Linked DNA regions of Homo sapiens. The protein of the gene in region 1 interacts with the protein of each later gene in a biochemical or structural test. Each region holds a gene or a part of one and is shown in the gene's direction. Other genes may lie near its edges.

Region 1 (7,923 bases):
CAAAGGAGAGAGAGAACTTGGTACATGTGTGCATGTTCATGTTGGAAGGGTATAATAATTATTTCTAATTGTTTTTAAAATTCAAAGCAGTCAAGAGAGTGGTTGTCTTTGAGGAAGAGGAGAGGATGGGACTGAGAGGGGATGTGAATGGAGCTTCTGAGTGCTGGGTGCGGGTCCTTCTGTGACCCTGGTAGTAGTGGTATGGAAGTGTTTATTTTGTGATAATTCTTTAAGCACAATTTTTCTATTTGTGCACTTTTCTCTGAGTATGATATATTGCACAGAGAATATATCATACACAGAGGAAATGTTTATGTTTTAAAAGCTCCAAAGTAGGAGTGTAGACAAGCAAAGACAACAGAGTTTCATGCAGAAACAAGGAAACTGTTTTAACAATAATGTTTATATTTGCCGCAGGTGCATTCCGTAAATAAGAAAAATCCCTGCACTGGGATAGTACTGGAATGAATGCACTTCAGGGAAATTCTTCTAGGAAGTTGAGCAAACTTCCAAGTTGAACTTGAGCAAAAGTTGATCGTATTATGTTGTACACTAAATACAGATATTTAGGAATTTCTAACAGCTCATCATTCACTGACTTTTGGCTAAGTCTGCTTTTATTTTAAAATAAGTTATTAATGGAATGATTAATGGGTCCAACTGAAACTCTCTCTGAGTTACTCTGACCTATGTCACAAGAGCGGTGAACCCTTTCTTCCCGTAGCTACTCTGGTGGAACACATTTCCAATGCTTAGGTCTTGAGTCGAGCCACACACTGACTATTTGGAGTAAAAACTGAAAGTACAGCATTCTCTCTTTCATGGTATTTTTGGAATCCCTGCCAAACCTTGCTTGCCTGCCAGAAAGCAGAGCGGATGTTGTGAAAGTAGTTCAAAGCCCTCCAAAAGCCTCATGCGCCATCCAGGAGAAGCTGGGCTGCTGGATGAGGCCCAGCCCCAGGATGCCTGGTGTAGGAAGGAGCTTGGAAGGTTCTGTTGTTTCATTAATTTCCTTCTTCTGTATTATTGTCTACATTTTTTTCTTTCATCCATAGAAGAACTAACACAGATTTGAGCCAAATGGTAAAAAATTTGAACTACTTAGAGCCAAAAGCCATATGAGAAGTGTCAGCTTAATGCCCAAAGTTGAAGAGACCCTGTTCTAAAAATTTTATTAGCTATAAAGAGGGGTTAATTCATGTATGCAAAGTCAGTTTCCCCAATTTTTATTAATTTTCAAAGATCTTATTTAATTTTTTAATATGAAAAATTAGGATCTTCCTTTGAAGTAGATGTCTAAATTTCTTTAGAACAAAATAAAACTCTTTAAATAACTTTACATTAATAGCAGTATGGTGATATCAGAGGAAGAAAGCTTTTGTTGTTGTTGTTGTTTTGGAAAAGTTGTTTTGGAAGCATAGATATTGAAAACTCAGAAAGAAGAAATATGCTCTTTTGGCCCTGCCTAACTTTCTATAAACAATCCCTCTGCTTTCCTACTGCACTGTTTTTTCTCCATTTTGGAAGGAAGGATTCCTATCTTTATCCATCTATATGTCTATCTTCTATCTATCTATCTATCTATTAATATCTATCTATCCAGCTATTGATCTATGAATCTATGTCTAGTTTTTTTGTTTAATGGAAAGGATTTCCTCAGACTCCAAATAGGGTTCAGAATGCAAAAGAGAATAAAAAGCAAATTGGTAATTCATTTATTCATTTATTTCTTATTTTATATATTCATTTTTTCAACAAGTATTCAACGAATGTCTACATGTGTAAACAGTCTACATGTGCAGTCATTCTTTCAGGCACTTGGGGCTATAGCACTGGGCATGTCAGATAAAAAGGCCTGCCTTCCGGAAGCTTATGTTTTAGTAGGAGAATAAACAAACATAATTGACTATTAAATGTATAATATGATAAGTGATGATAGATTTGATAAAGAATAGAAAAGGGGATAGAACATGTTGAGGAATTGATATTTAATTAGGAAGGACATGAAAGGCCTCTTTGAAAGACATAATTTGTGTAAAATCTGAAAAAGGAAAGGGAATGAGGCTTGAGGTTCTCTGAGGCCGAATATTTCAGGCAAAAGGAACAAAAACACAAACACCTTGGGGCGGGAGTGTGCCTAGGGCATTTAAGGAAGAGCAAGGAGGTCAAGGTAGCTGTAATGTAGTGGGGATGGAGCATGGGGAGTGCAGCAGTGGGCTGGAGGGGCAGCAGGGACTCGAGCCATTGAGGATCTCATTGCCATTGCAAACACCAGCTTCTGCTCGGAGTAAGACAGTGACCCTCTGGAAGGTTCTGAACAGAAGGATGGCATGCTTTGTGTCATGTCTGAAGGTAGAACCATCAGCCTTTGCTGGTGGATTGGGTGTGGTAGAAGGAGTCAAGAATGACTCCAGTGTTTGCTCTGAGCAACTGGAAAGACGGAGTTACCATTAAGTGCTTTGTGGAAGACTACGGTAGGAACCGGGTTTGGTGTGCATTGGAAGTTGGTGGGGTGGGGATGTAGAGAATAAGAGGAACTTATCTTTAGATATGTTATTTTTGAGATGCCTCTTAGGGGTTGATGTGGAACTGCTGAAGAGGAAGTTTAGACAAATGATGATGGAGTCCAGGGAAGAAGTAAGGAGAGATATAAACTTGGGACCCTCAGCACATAGGAGAGTGGGAGAGATTTCTTGTGATTACCAACAGCATGAACATAGATAGAGCAGAGAACAGGATACAAGCTGGGGCTTTAGAACACTCCAGTGAGAAGAGGTGGCGTGACAAGGAGGAATCAGCAACTAAGGTGGGAGTAAGTAGCAATTGTGGTACAAGAAAAATCAGGAGAATGTATCATAGGAGCACAACAATGAAACTGTTCAAGAAGGAGGAGTAGTCAATTGTTTTAGGTGCTGCTGATAAATAAGTTGAAGATGGATCATTGGTTTAACATTGATTTAATGGTTTATTGGATTTAACAACATGGAGGTCACTGATGGTCTTCACAAGAGCAGTTTTGGTGAATGGTGGGGGCCAAACCCTGATGGGACTGAATCTATGCAGAATGGGCCACTGGAGACAGGAAAAAGTAGAGCATTAGCTGGACAGGGATTTGGGGGCAGAGAGGAATTTTAACATGCAAGAAATAACAGCAAACATGTGTACCAGTGAGACTGCTGGAGGGGATCTGGAAAGTTGGTGAGTCAGAGGAGAGAACAGAATTGCTGGGATGAATTTCTTGAGTAGGAGAGCGGGGGCCATTGTGCCCAAGTGGAGGGATTGGCCTTTACTAGGAGCACAGATGCTCCATCTCTGTGAACAGGGCAGAAGGCAGCATAGATTTGCATCCATGTAGTTCGTGGGCAATAGGAACTTGGGAGAAGTGCTCTTCTGATGGCTTCCATTTCCTCAACAAAGAGATAGCAAGGCCATCAGCTGCGAGTGAGGATGAGAGAGGGGGTTTGAGATGAGAAGAGTTTTGAAATAGTCATTTGGGAGACTGCCAGAAAAAGGATGTGAAAATGTGATGACTGGAGAGTAGTGAAAATCCACTTACTGGCAGTGGTTGTGAAGTTTTAGTTTCACACATGCTGTCCTGGGGATAGTCAAAAAGAGTAGTTCAATCACATGCATGAATTGAATGTCTACATGGCACTTGGCATTGCGTTAGGTGCAGGGAATACAGGGATGAAGGAAATGTTTCTTGTCATCTTCTTTAAGCTTTAGAAGAGGGGCCATGACTTACCCGTAAATACCTAAATGTACCTCGGTAAGTTCTCAGAGGGCATCATTGGAAGGCATGAGAACATAAAAACTTAAAAGCTTATCAGTCCAATTTTGGGAGTGCAGGGAAGGTTTCCTGGACAATGTGATGCCTCAAGTATAGATTTACGGGTTTTGAAAAATTGGGTAGGCCAGGTGCAGTGGCTCACGCCTGTAATCCCAGCACTTTGGGAGGCTGAGGTGGGTGTATCACTTGAGGTTTAAGGAGTTTGAGACCAGCTTGGTCAACATGGCGAAACCCCATCTCTACTAAAAATAGAAAAATTAGCCAGGCATGGTGGTGCATGCCTGTAATCCCAGCTACTTGGGAGGTTGATGCAGGAGAATCGCTTGAACCTGGGAGGCAGAGCTTGCAGTGAGCTGAGATTGGGCCACTGCACTCCAGCCTGGGCAACAGAGTGACTCTGTCTCAAAAAAAAAAAAAAATGAAAAGAAAAGAAAAAAATTGGGTAAAGAAAGACTGGAAAGTGTTCTGTGTAAAAGAAACTCTAGAAATTAGAGTTTATGAGGTGAAGAAAGGCAAGGAAGATTCTTCATGTGGCACAACAACACGGAGGTGTGAGCTAGTGTTGTGTGGGTGAGAAAATGCATGCCAGTACATTAGACTGGGAAGTCAAAAGGAAGCAGAGTATCAACAAATGGTGCCAGTGCAGGTGAGGAGCCTTGGGTGTAAGGGGATCCATGAGGGGGACTCGGCATTTACATGCATCCCTGCTCTGCTAAGTGGAGGTGGAGTTGAAGTGGGCATTGGAGGCAGTGGTCTCGCTCAGGAGGCTGTGGCAGCAGATCAAACGTGATATATTGAACTGGATATCCAACCTTAGGATTATGGTCATGGGATGGAGAAAACAGGCATAGATTTGAGATACAATTGTCAGGGCTGAATATTTGTTTTTAATATGGAGGATGAACATCTTATTTATACTCCATTCCTTGTCTATAGAAAACTCTAACCTGAGCTAGACATTTCAGAAATGTGTGCCATTGGTTACAGAGGAGGCAGAATGGAATAGCACCAATAGGTTGTTTATTAGCATTATTGGAATACATACTGTTTTGATGGAAGGTTAGTAGCCTCTTCTTTGACTGAAAAGATAATCTGTGTATTTATTCTGTATTAAATAAATGTGATTTATTAAAAATAAAGATAATTTAATAAAATCTTAAAAGACATATTTTATGTTGCCATATGTCCTAGGTAAAGTGTTACGTTCCAATTTTACTTAGTGAAGTTTGGATTGTCAATAAAATGCTAATACCTACAATGGTAAGTTTTAGGAGGCATGATTCCCACACCAAGGTAGAATTGTTACTGTGGTGTGGAATAATGGATTGATCAGGGAAAGGCAACATAGAAGATCTTTGCTATATGTCTAGCTCTTCCACTAACTCTTGGGTAGGATACTTCACTTCTTTGCGGCTAGCGTATGCAAACAAATGTCGTATTTCTTAAGCTTAATGCTGGAATTAGAACATTAACGTGCAAAAATGCTTTGGTAATTTTATGTATATGTGTACTTGTAAAAGAGTTGGTAAAGATGGTTTATGTAAATTAAGACACTCTCAACATACCCCCTTCCCCTTTTTTTCTACTCACACAGTGTAAAGAACATGATCTGGCCATGATTAACCAGTTGCTGGATGACCCGAAGCTGACAGCCAGGAAATACAGAGAGTGGAAAGTCATGAACACCCTGCTGATCCAGGACATCTATCAGCAGCAGCGGGCTTCGCCTGCCCCTGATGACACTGATGACACCCCCCAGGAACTCAAGAAATCACCTTCTTCTCCCTCTGTTGAAAATTCCATTTGAGACAAAGTCAGGGTTTTCTCCTCTTATATTTTATCACAAGCAACTCTTCAAGATGTTGCAAAAGCTTACATTTTTCCTTAAAAGGAAAACTGAAACCCAGTCCTTCAAGCATCAGCTTCCCATCTAAAGATGCACGTTAGATGAAGATAATCACCGAATACACCAGGGCTCCTCATTTCAGTCGTAACGCATCCATTGAGATTGGAATGATTGAGTTCAGTTGAAAGGCGTTTTTTGTGTTCCTACTGGGAGCTCACGGTGATGTGGGGCTCTAGGGGGGATGTGAGAAATGTCTCTTCTGTTCATTGCTCTCCAGAGAATGCTATGGACAAGAATCAAATTTTACCAGGAGTAATTGCCCATGGAAACATTCTGTTTTTCAAAAGAAGAATGTACATATTCCACTTGACTGGGAAGCTGTGTGGCCCAAATCACTGTTTGAGTGGAGGAATGTTTTCTAGAGCAGTGACTGGAAGGACAAACGTGGTGTTGCAGAACAAAAATTCCTTGCCTTTGGTATGGAATGGTGGTGCCTTTTCCATGTGATGAGAAATGCTTCATAGACAGTGGCATGTGGGAGAGCTGAAGGAGGAGGCGTGTTCCATATTCCACTCATTCAAAGGACAGCTTGGTGTTTTCACACTTTATGCAGGTTAGGGGATCTGATTAATGTTTCCTTTCCTTACAACAGCTAGAGAAAACATCTCATCACAATTGGAGACCTCTACTTCCTTTGAGCTTTCCTACTCAATGGTAGGAGATAGGAATATGTTCCGCAAAGAATGTCTACTGCTCTTGTCCTTGGCTGTGATCCCTATACATAGTGTGAATTTATATCCAGGTTTCCCAGGATCAATATTGACAAGACGACTTTGGCATCTGAATTGTTTTAATATCTTTACTCAAAAAAACAAAAAAACAAAAACCCATGGAAGCAACAAAAGAGTTAAACATGAGGGATTTATTTTTGTATGTTTATATGTCACTTGTGTGCTATGTGAATAGCTATGTTTGTTATTTAAATATATTTATAGAAGTTCAAATTACTAGTGTTTAAAAGATGATATACTATTATATATTGTGCTTAGTATATATTTGATGAGTCTATACTTTTTGCTTGAGAAAAATAGAAATACTATTGATTCACTGGTGTTATGATGTTGCACTGTGTCTGAGGAATGCTCAGGAAATCTTGTGGGAAAAAAATGGGGCATGCATTCATAATTTTTCATTTTCTTCCCCACCCCAACCCCCATGAGCTCTTAAATTTAGATTTCTATCTCTTGTAAGTCACTCTTTTAACCAGCAAAGGACTTTCATCTTAGATTATCCTTTCTATTAAATAAACTTTAAGCTTTGTGCCATTTATGCCTGCAAACCTTAGACCAAAGGCAACACAACTAATGTCATCTTTTCATTAAAGACTAATAGAAATTTAGAAATCATTGTGTTAAAGAGAGCTATAGAGAAACAATATGAAAGTCTTCCCTTACTAATCACCATGAATATTTCTCACCATAGGAATAACCACAACCCACCAAGTACCCATGTTGGCCCTGCCTACCCGTAACAAATTGTTCACACAACCTATTTTGTTTTATAGCTTCAAAGTGTGGCTTGACATTCAAATGGAAGGAACCACCTGAATTATATCTGCAAACAAAATGGAAATAGTTGTTGAATAGTTCCCCAAGCTTTACTAAGAAGCCTTAATACTCTGTAAACAAACAAACAAACAAAAAACAACCTTAGCATTAAGAAATAAAAACAAAAAACAAGAAGCAAGTTGTACTGCTAGAAACTTCTCTAAGATAAGAGGCCAGGCCAGTCAGTTTGGCCCAGCAAACATGTGGGTACTTCTCCACCTAGGGAAGCCACTGAAGATGAGTTTGACCTGTGGTGACCTGACAGAGAGAACATTCAGATCCTCAGATTGCACCCTGATGCCCTGGTTTAGGAAAGCAGTGCTTTAACCTTTTGCCCCTGGAAATTACTGATTCTTTCTGTGATTAGCAGATACCAGAAGGGAAATTATTTAGGATTGGCAATGTAAAGAGTATTGAAGGAACAACAAATAACAATAGCAGAAATAACAGTGTGACATAAAGTGCCCTTCCACCTATTTTTCTTTGGTTTGCAACACCAGCCTGTAGACTTCCAGTTTTTCTTAAATTGAAGAGCTCCAGACACTTTTGAGCAGGGTTTGTGAATAGCTTTGAATGCTTTCCTTTGGCTTTTCGTGAAGACATATTTCCCCAGCCTTTCAACTGTAAACTCCTTTAGTACCATTGAAACTTAAGGCAAAAAAGATCCCTGGGATTACTTA
Region 2 (7,923 bases), on another chromosome or scaffold:
AAGGGGAAGTGAGGCCAGCTGTCCTGGAAGCAGGGCTGCAAGCTCAAAGATTTCTAAAAATACGATGGGAAAGAGGAAGGACAAAGAGGAAGTGGGGAGGAGCCGGGGAGATGGGCACATTCACCAGCCTGGGCGCAAGGGCAGCACCAGCCTGTGGGCTTGGGGTGGGGGTTCATGTCACACCTTGTGAGGTTGTGAGAAGCACAGAGATAAGTGAGAAGGAAACGGGGTGTGTGGTGGTGGTGGTGGTGGTGGTAATTTTATTATTTGTGTGTATTATTATTAGTATTTAAAAATTCATCTCCTGGCCAGGCATGGTGGCTCACATCTATAATCCCAGCACTTTGGGAGGCCAAGGCAGGTGGATCACCAGAGGTCAGGAGATCGAGACCAACCTGGCCAACATGGTGAAACCCCCGTCTCTACTAAAAATACAAAAAAAAATTAGCCGGGCCTGGTGGTGGGCGCCTGTAATCCCAGCTACTTGGGAGGCTGAGGCAGGAGAATCACTTGAACCTGGGAGGTGGAGGTTGCAGTGAGCCGAGATCAGGCCACTGCACTCCAGCCTGGGTAACAGACAGAGACATCGTCTCAAACAAACAAACAAACAAACAAAAAAACATATCCCATGAGCCTACACCGGTGCCTGAAACTCTGAAATGGGGAGGAATCTCCTCTTTTTAACAAATAGAGGAAGGGTCAGTAGGCTCCGTGTGCACCATGTAAGACACAGCAAGCCCGGGGCCATCATCACCCTCATGTGGGTTCAGATGCTTTGACCAGTTGCCACCTATTCGGGACAGGACCCCCGTCAGAAGGGGACAGGGGACTGAGGATTCACGAACACACTTGTCAACCAGAAGGGAGTATGAAAGGAGCTGTATGCAGTAAAAATACAAGCAACCTGCTCACTATTCCCATGCAATCCCACTCCCCTGGGAACCGTGCCTCAGTTTCCCCAGCTCTGCAAAGTTGGCTTTGCAGGGGTTGGGTGGGGGCAACTGCAGGCATCATTCTGCATCTTGCCTTTATTCTGAAACGTGTAACCCCGTCAGAAACCCAGATTTAGCGTCCGACGGGTGTTTGATGGTTCGTATGGAGAGATCAGCCTTCGGAAGATCAACATCAGGGCTGTAAGCCTCCGAGCCCCAGATGGACCCAGATGTGAATCCCAGCTCTGCCACCCTCCAGCTGTGTCACCTTTGGCAGGACACTTCACGTCTCTGAGTCTCAGGGGCCTCACCTGTAGGATGAGCTTAGAAGTACCTTTCCTTTCGGAGTGGTTGTGGGATTCAATGAGAGTGGATGGGAAGAGCCTGGATCACACAGGGCCTGGCGCACCATGGGTGCTCAGCCACCATGCCTTCCTTAACCAACGGCGTGGCTTGGTTATTGAGCCATGCAGATCCCAGAAACGCTGTGGGGAATGGGAAGGGGTGGGGGCAGGGATGGCTCCTAGATGGAACCCAGGAGGACCCCTGAAAAGGGATCTGAAGTAGGAGATAAGGAGGGGCTGCTGGCAGAGAGGAGAAGGAAGGGCGTTCTGGGTACAAGGAATGGTGGTGCAAAGGCTTTTGGAAGGCTAGAGCTCAGGGGAGTGAATGAAGGGCAGCCAGGGAGGCAGAGCACGGAGCTGGGACGGGGAGGGGCACAGTGTGAGAGGAGCATGGAGGGGATACACCAGCAGGACTGGTGAGATTTGGGGTCTTTGTCCCCAGGACAATGGGATGCCATGGGAAACTGGACCAGAATGGGTAGAAGAGGCAGGGAGGCATCCGAAAGCCCTGAAGTCCCCCTGAGCAAAGCGATAGCGGCTGGGATGACAGTGGAGCCATGGAAGGGGAAAGAAATAGACAGGACTTGGTGATGGAGGAGACCCAAGGGGTGACAGCCAGGTGGGAGTCAGAGTGCCTCCTGGGGAAATGTGGACCATTTCCAGAGCTCAGGAATTCAGGAAGAGGATGGGGAGGAGGGGGCATTCTAGAAGTTCAATTTTGGGCACAATGACAAGAGCGGTGGTGACCAATACATAGGGGATGGTTGGATCTGAAGCTCAGAGAAGGGGCTGGAACAGAGGATGTGTGAATGATTCCCTGGACCCTGAAGGCAGGTGGGAGCCAGGAGCTGATGAAGCCCCATGGGGACCAGGAAGGTCGGCCTAGGAGGAGCTTCAGGAGCCCCATCACTCAATTCTGGCCATCCACACCTTGGAGCATCTGTAGGAATGCTGGAGCCCACCCTGGCTTCTCTCAGACAAGCAGCCAGTCTGGAATCCACTCAGCCTCCTCCAGCAGGTGCGCCCTGGGCAGAAACACAACCCCAAGCCAACAGGAAAACTGTATAAAGCCAACAAACAAAACAAAACAGAATCGGATTGTTCACCTCCAAGGCAACCCAAGGTGATTGGTTTTTTCCCATGGATGAGACCAACGGCCTCCCCGCCAGCTCCTGCCGGAAGAGTTCCGGAGCCAGCTTCCAGCACTGCCTCCCCGGCTGTCCCTGCTCTGCATCTCCACACAGGTGGCCCCTTACACCTTCCATCCCTGCATGTCCCAAGCAGTTTGGGAATCCACCTCTCCTGGGGCAGAGGCGTGGGGGTCAGCAAACAAGGGTGCAGTTCCCAGCACTGCCACTTCCTGTGAATGAGACCTGGGGCGAGTCACTTCGCCTTCCTAAGCCTCAGTGTCTCAAACTGGAAAATACCTACTTCAAAGAGGGTTAAATGACAGCAGTTATACAGAGACTGGCATGGAGTAGGTGTTTGTGCGCTTAACGGGTCATAAGACTCTTGCTTTGTCCCCTGGTATAAGTGTCCCCGCCAACTCCCTCCTGGAAACAGTACCTCTAGACCTGCAGAGACAGAAAGAAACTCCAGAGTGGGCCGGGCACAGTGGCTCACACCTGTAATCCCAGGACTTTGGGAGGCCAAGGCAGGTGGATCACCTGAGGTCAGGAGTTCGAGACCAGCCTGGCCAACATAGTGAAACCCCCGTCTCTATTAAAAATACAGAAATTGGCCCAGTGCGGTGGCTCACGCCTGTAATCTCAGCACTTTGGGAGGCCAAAGTGGGCAGATTGTGAGGTCAAGAGATCAAGACCATCCTGGCCAACATGGTGAAACCCATCTCTACTAAAAATACAGAGATTGGCTGGGCATGGTGGCTCATGTCTGTGGTCCCAGCTGCTCAGGAGGCTGAGACAGGAGAGTCCCTTGAGCCCGGGAGGCAGAGGTTGCAGTGAGCAAAGGTCGTGCCACTGCACTCCAGCCTGGTGACAGAGTGAGACTCTGTCTCAAAAAAATAAATACATAAATAAAAAATTAGCCGGGCATGGTGGTGCATGCCTGTGATCCCAGCTACTGGGGAGGCTGAGGCAGGAGAATCGCTTGAACCTGGGAGGCAGAGGTTGCAGTGAGCCAAGATCATGTCACTGCACTCCAACCTGGGTGACAGAGCAAGACTGTCTCAAAAAAAAAAAAAGGAAACTCCAGAGTGGGTCACTAGGAGAATGGCAGGTGGGGCCACTCCCACTCCTACCCCTCAGCTCGTAGACCCTTGTGGTCCACCTGCTGGAGACAGAGCACCACACAGTGGTGGTAGATTTAGGGCATATGGTGCCTCCTGGAGGATGGCGCCCCATCCAAGTGGATATCACCTCCAGGCTGACACCTCAGCTGTACCTTCTCAAGACCGCCCCATGGCTCCATTCCATCCGGCCAGCACCTTCCGATGAAATGCTAGAGAGGATCGGTGGATCTCATGGCCACGTGCTCACTTCAGACCACCTTTGCTGTAGAGAGCATCCCTTGGTCTTCTGTGATGTTATGTGGTGTGCTGTGTTGGTGGGTCAAACACCCTAAGCCTCTGGATAGTGGTGCTGGCTGAGGCTCTGTGGGCAGGAAAGGCAAACACATTTCCAACACGTGTCGACTCCAGACAAGATGGATTGTTGACTTTTGCAGAATAGAAGGGGTTTCATGGAATCAGTTTGCCCCCTGGTCTTCTGGAGAAAAGATGGGCTCAGCATGCGTCCCTGTTGCTGGCAGAGTGGACATTCCGCTCCCACGGGGTCATCCACCTGCCTCTTCTCCTGACATCTGTGTTTCTGATCTTCCCATCTTCCTTCTTTCTTGCCTCTGACCAAGAAGTCAAGCCATTCACCACTGCCCATGATGCATGGATATTCTGACTTCAAGAAGTCACTTCTCTTTCCACAGGAAGTGGATGGCCAGGTGCCCTGCCTGAAGCCCTGCCCCCTGGGAGGACTTGCCCTCATCACTGTCTTTCCAGGACACCTTTGAGCAGGACTGTAGTTCAGTAGCTGCCTGGTTTTCACTTGCGCCCAAACTCTGAGCCAACTCATTCTGCAACCAGCCTTGGGCATTTTCCTCTGTTGTTAGAAAGTCATAAGGGACCCACCCATGTGGTCACGGTGTAAGCAGAGGGATAGACCCTGGTCCACCAGCAGCGGTGACATGAGGATCTGGGCCACCTATCCCTGGAGCCTACTGGAGCCCTCTGGCTCTGCTCACACCTGCTCCTGGACGTACCACTCACAAAGGGTTACTATTGGGCTCGCTTGACCTTCTGACTTAGTGGGACAGATGGAGCCATCTGAGCTACTTAGTTACATGATGTTCCGTGGGCTGGCACTCTATCTCTACCAGGACCCGGTGCCATTCCAGGAACTGTTTTCTGCATAGTATATAATTCTCTGCTAGAAGGAAGCAGCTGGAAGGAGCAGGCCATCCTCCCGACCGGGGAAGTGCTTGGGTATGTGATGAGGGCCATTGCTCCTGCATCCGTTAGGTCTCAAGAGTGGCACCCACACCTGCCATTCCCCTCAGGATATAGTTTTTTATTTAGTCTCTTCGCTGTGGGGATGATGGGTCAGCTTCATAAATTTCCAAATAGCTATTCCCACTACAATGATCCTGACCCCATGGGCCAAGGTACCAATATGGGCTCAAGTACCAGCGATGTCCATTCCAATTCTACATCTGTAGGCCAGGAAAGTGGCCATGAATCAAGCAGACCCCTAGTGAGCTGGACCTGGAAGGACTTCATTTACCACCTGGTCTCTATGTACCCCCACTCAAATGTGGCCCTGAAGACACTTCAGTCTTGAGCGCTGATGTCAACTTGGATCCTGTGTCCAACAATCCTCAGAATGTTTGGATATTGCTCTTTCCCCAGTGTACAGTTGTTGGAGTGAATGGCCACAGGTGTTTTAATGTGGAACCAGGGAGTCATTGCCATATATACTTGCCACAATGTTGCAGGACTCTTCCCTTGGAACCCAGCCTCTCCTTCAGTCCCGACGTTCTGTATCTGAAAACTGGGGTAGGTCCTGAAACCAGGCAAGGGGTCTTGGGTTTTTTTGTTTGTTTTGTTTTGTTTTGTTTTGGAGACAGAGTCTCACTCTGTTGCCCAGGCTGGAGTGCAGTGGCATGATCTGGGCTCCCTGCAAGCTCCGCCTCCCAGGTTCACGCCATTCTCCTGCCTCAGCCTCCTCCGGTGTACCTGGGACTACAGGTGCCCACCACCATGCCTGGCTAATTTTTTGTATTTTTAGTAGAGATGGGGTTTCACTGTGTTATCCAGGATGGTCTCGATCTCCTGACCTCGTGACCCGCCCGCCTCGGCCTCCCAAAGTGCTGGGATTAGAGGCGTGAGCCACCTTGCCTGACCGGGACTTGGCTTTTTATTGCAGTGGCTGCCCTTGGTCAGGGGAACTCCTGGGCGTGGCACCTCCCTTTGGCTGAGGCTAGTGTCTGGGGAGGGATTCAGCTGTGAGCCATCAGCAGGCTTTCCTCCCAGCAGCTGGGGGGATGGTGCCTTGGTCCTGAAGAGAAGAGCCAGATGCACACAGCACCCATTGCACACATGTGGGACTCAGCATATGTTGGATTCTTGCTGGGTGTTTGACAAAGTGTAGCTCTTTCCTTCCTGACAGCTGCCCTGTGAGGCAAGGGTTATGGTTCACATTTCACAGATGAGGATGCTGTATTAGGTATATCTCAGATTTAGCTGCTTAAAGAGACTCAGAATAACAGCAACCGAAACATTCTCAAAACTGATTTATTTCTTATTGAAAAGTCCAAATGGATAGGTGGGCCAGGTGAACATGATGAGTCTTCTCCACACCGCTGCCTGGGGACCTGGGCTCCATCTAGCCTGGTGCCCTGCATCTCCGCATGGGGCTTTAATCTCAACAGCCACAATGCCTGCTTAATCATGAGAAGGAGAAGTAGGGAAAGGGAGCGCTCAACATTCCCTCTGTGTTCTTTTGGAGGAAATGATGTCTATCCTTGTAAAACCTTTAAGAAATGCGGCCAGGCACTTCCCGACGCTGGAACTTGAAGGTCAGCGAGGATTTGGGCAGGCAGACAGGAGAAGGCATCCCAGAGTACAGGAGCGGCCTGGGCAAACATGGGGAAGTGGGACTGAGTCCTGGATGGCTCTGGAGCAGGAAGGAGCTGGCAGGCTGGACTGGCAGGCTCTTTTTGGGAATGGCAGGGAATAAGTCTGGCTGCCAAGGCTGGAGAGGTTGTGGAGGCCCCAGGCCCAGGATGAAGACTTTCTCTCTGAGTAATAGGGAGGCCATATTACTCAGAGAAGGAGAGTGTTGTGGATGAAACAGAAGCCACCATGAAGCATGAAGATAGGACAGCTGACCTAGTTGTGGGCATCATCACAGCACCTTGCATAGAATGCCGCACACACAAATCTTATTTCATTTAATTCATTTCCAAGTGGAGATGAAAGAGCACAGGCTTTGGAGTCAGCCCAATTCAAGGTCCCATCCTGGCTCAGTGACCTTTTCCCTGTGGGTTGAGTCACCTCACCTCTCTGAGCCCCAGTATCCAGGGGCAGGGACTATAAAATATCCCCCAAATCCAGCCTCCCCATTTTACACAGTAAGGACATCAGGACCACCCTGCTACAGGCTCATTTCCCAGCCTCCCTTGCAGCTAGGTGTGGCCACGTGACTACATTCTGGCCAATGGGATGTGAGGAAAATGGTATACCACTTCTTGGTTGTTCAAATAAATAAGTGAATAAATAATGAGCCCATGAGCCAGTGGAGGAGGAGATTCAAGTTCCGGGGAAGGAATGCGTGCCTTCAGCGAGTGTTTAACTGAGTGCTTATGACATGTCAGACTCTTTCTAGGTGCTGGGGACACAGTAGTGAGCAAAAGAGTAGAACAACTGAACTCTCATGGAGCCGAGAGTCTAGCGGGAGGGACAGAAAAGATGCAAGGAAACAGGATCCTTTTGGGGGTGTCTATCCAGGGGGGTGGGAGAAACAGGAAGCAGGGCAGGAGAGGAGGGAGCAGGGGCTGCTTTAGACAGGGCAGTCAGGGGAGGCTTCCTGGAGGAGGTGGGCCTCTGTGAATAGGGCAAGTCCTGGGTTTCCGGAGGGAAGGGGGCCCTGCAGAAGTGAGGGCAAGTGGGTGTGGCTGGAGCCAAGTGATGGGGAAGGCCGGTTGTCTCTCTGTAGAGCCCGCGGAGCTGAGCAGCGGGGAGACGGAAGAGTTACAGAGGATCAAGTGGCACCGAAAGCAGCTCCTGGAGGACATCCAGGTGAGTGCACACTCGTGTCCACACACGTGTCCATGCCCACACTCCTGCACGCTTGTACGCACCCCACCAGCTCCTGACCCAGCCTGGTCAACAGACAGTGTGGCCAACTCTGGCTCATATCAGCCTCGGCCCCAGCCCCAGGAGCAGGGAGAACAACAAGACTGCAGACACCCCGAGACCCAGGGAGAACTGGGAGAGCCGGGGAGGGAGGCAGCGATCCAATTAGGCGCCCACCGTGTGCCGATCCTCATCCTGGCCTTTACTTGCTTTGTCACAGGGCAGGCTCTGACCCCTGTGGTGAAGCTTCAGCCAGGTCTCACCCCTGCAGAGTGTAGAC

The links. Proteins that work in one complex are often made in the same cells at the same time.
Region 2: the proteins of IPCEF1 (region 1) and CYTH4 form a complex in vitro, tested with the Homo sapiens proteins (one study listed by BioGRID).

What each region holds. Positions count from the first base shown.
Region 1 is NC_000006.12:154,157,502-154,165,424, reverse strand, and holds part of IPCEF1 (interactor protein for cytohesin exchange factors 1), read left to right. Parts: intron 1-5,384; coding exon 5,385-5,597; 3' UTR 5,598-7,923. UniProt on the Homo sapiens protein: Enhances the promotion of guanine-nucleotide exchange by PSCD2 on ARF6 in a concentration-dependent manner.
Region 2 is NC_000022.11:37,285,118-37,293,040, forward strand, and holds part of CYTH4 (cytohesin-4), read left to right. Parts: intron 1-7,484; exon of another isoform or gene 7,485-7,503; coding exon 7,504-7,586; intron 7,587-7,923. UniProt on the Homo sapiens protein: Promotes guanine-nucleotide exchange on ARF1 and ARF5. Promotes the activation of ARF factors through replacement of GDP with GTP.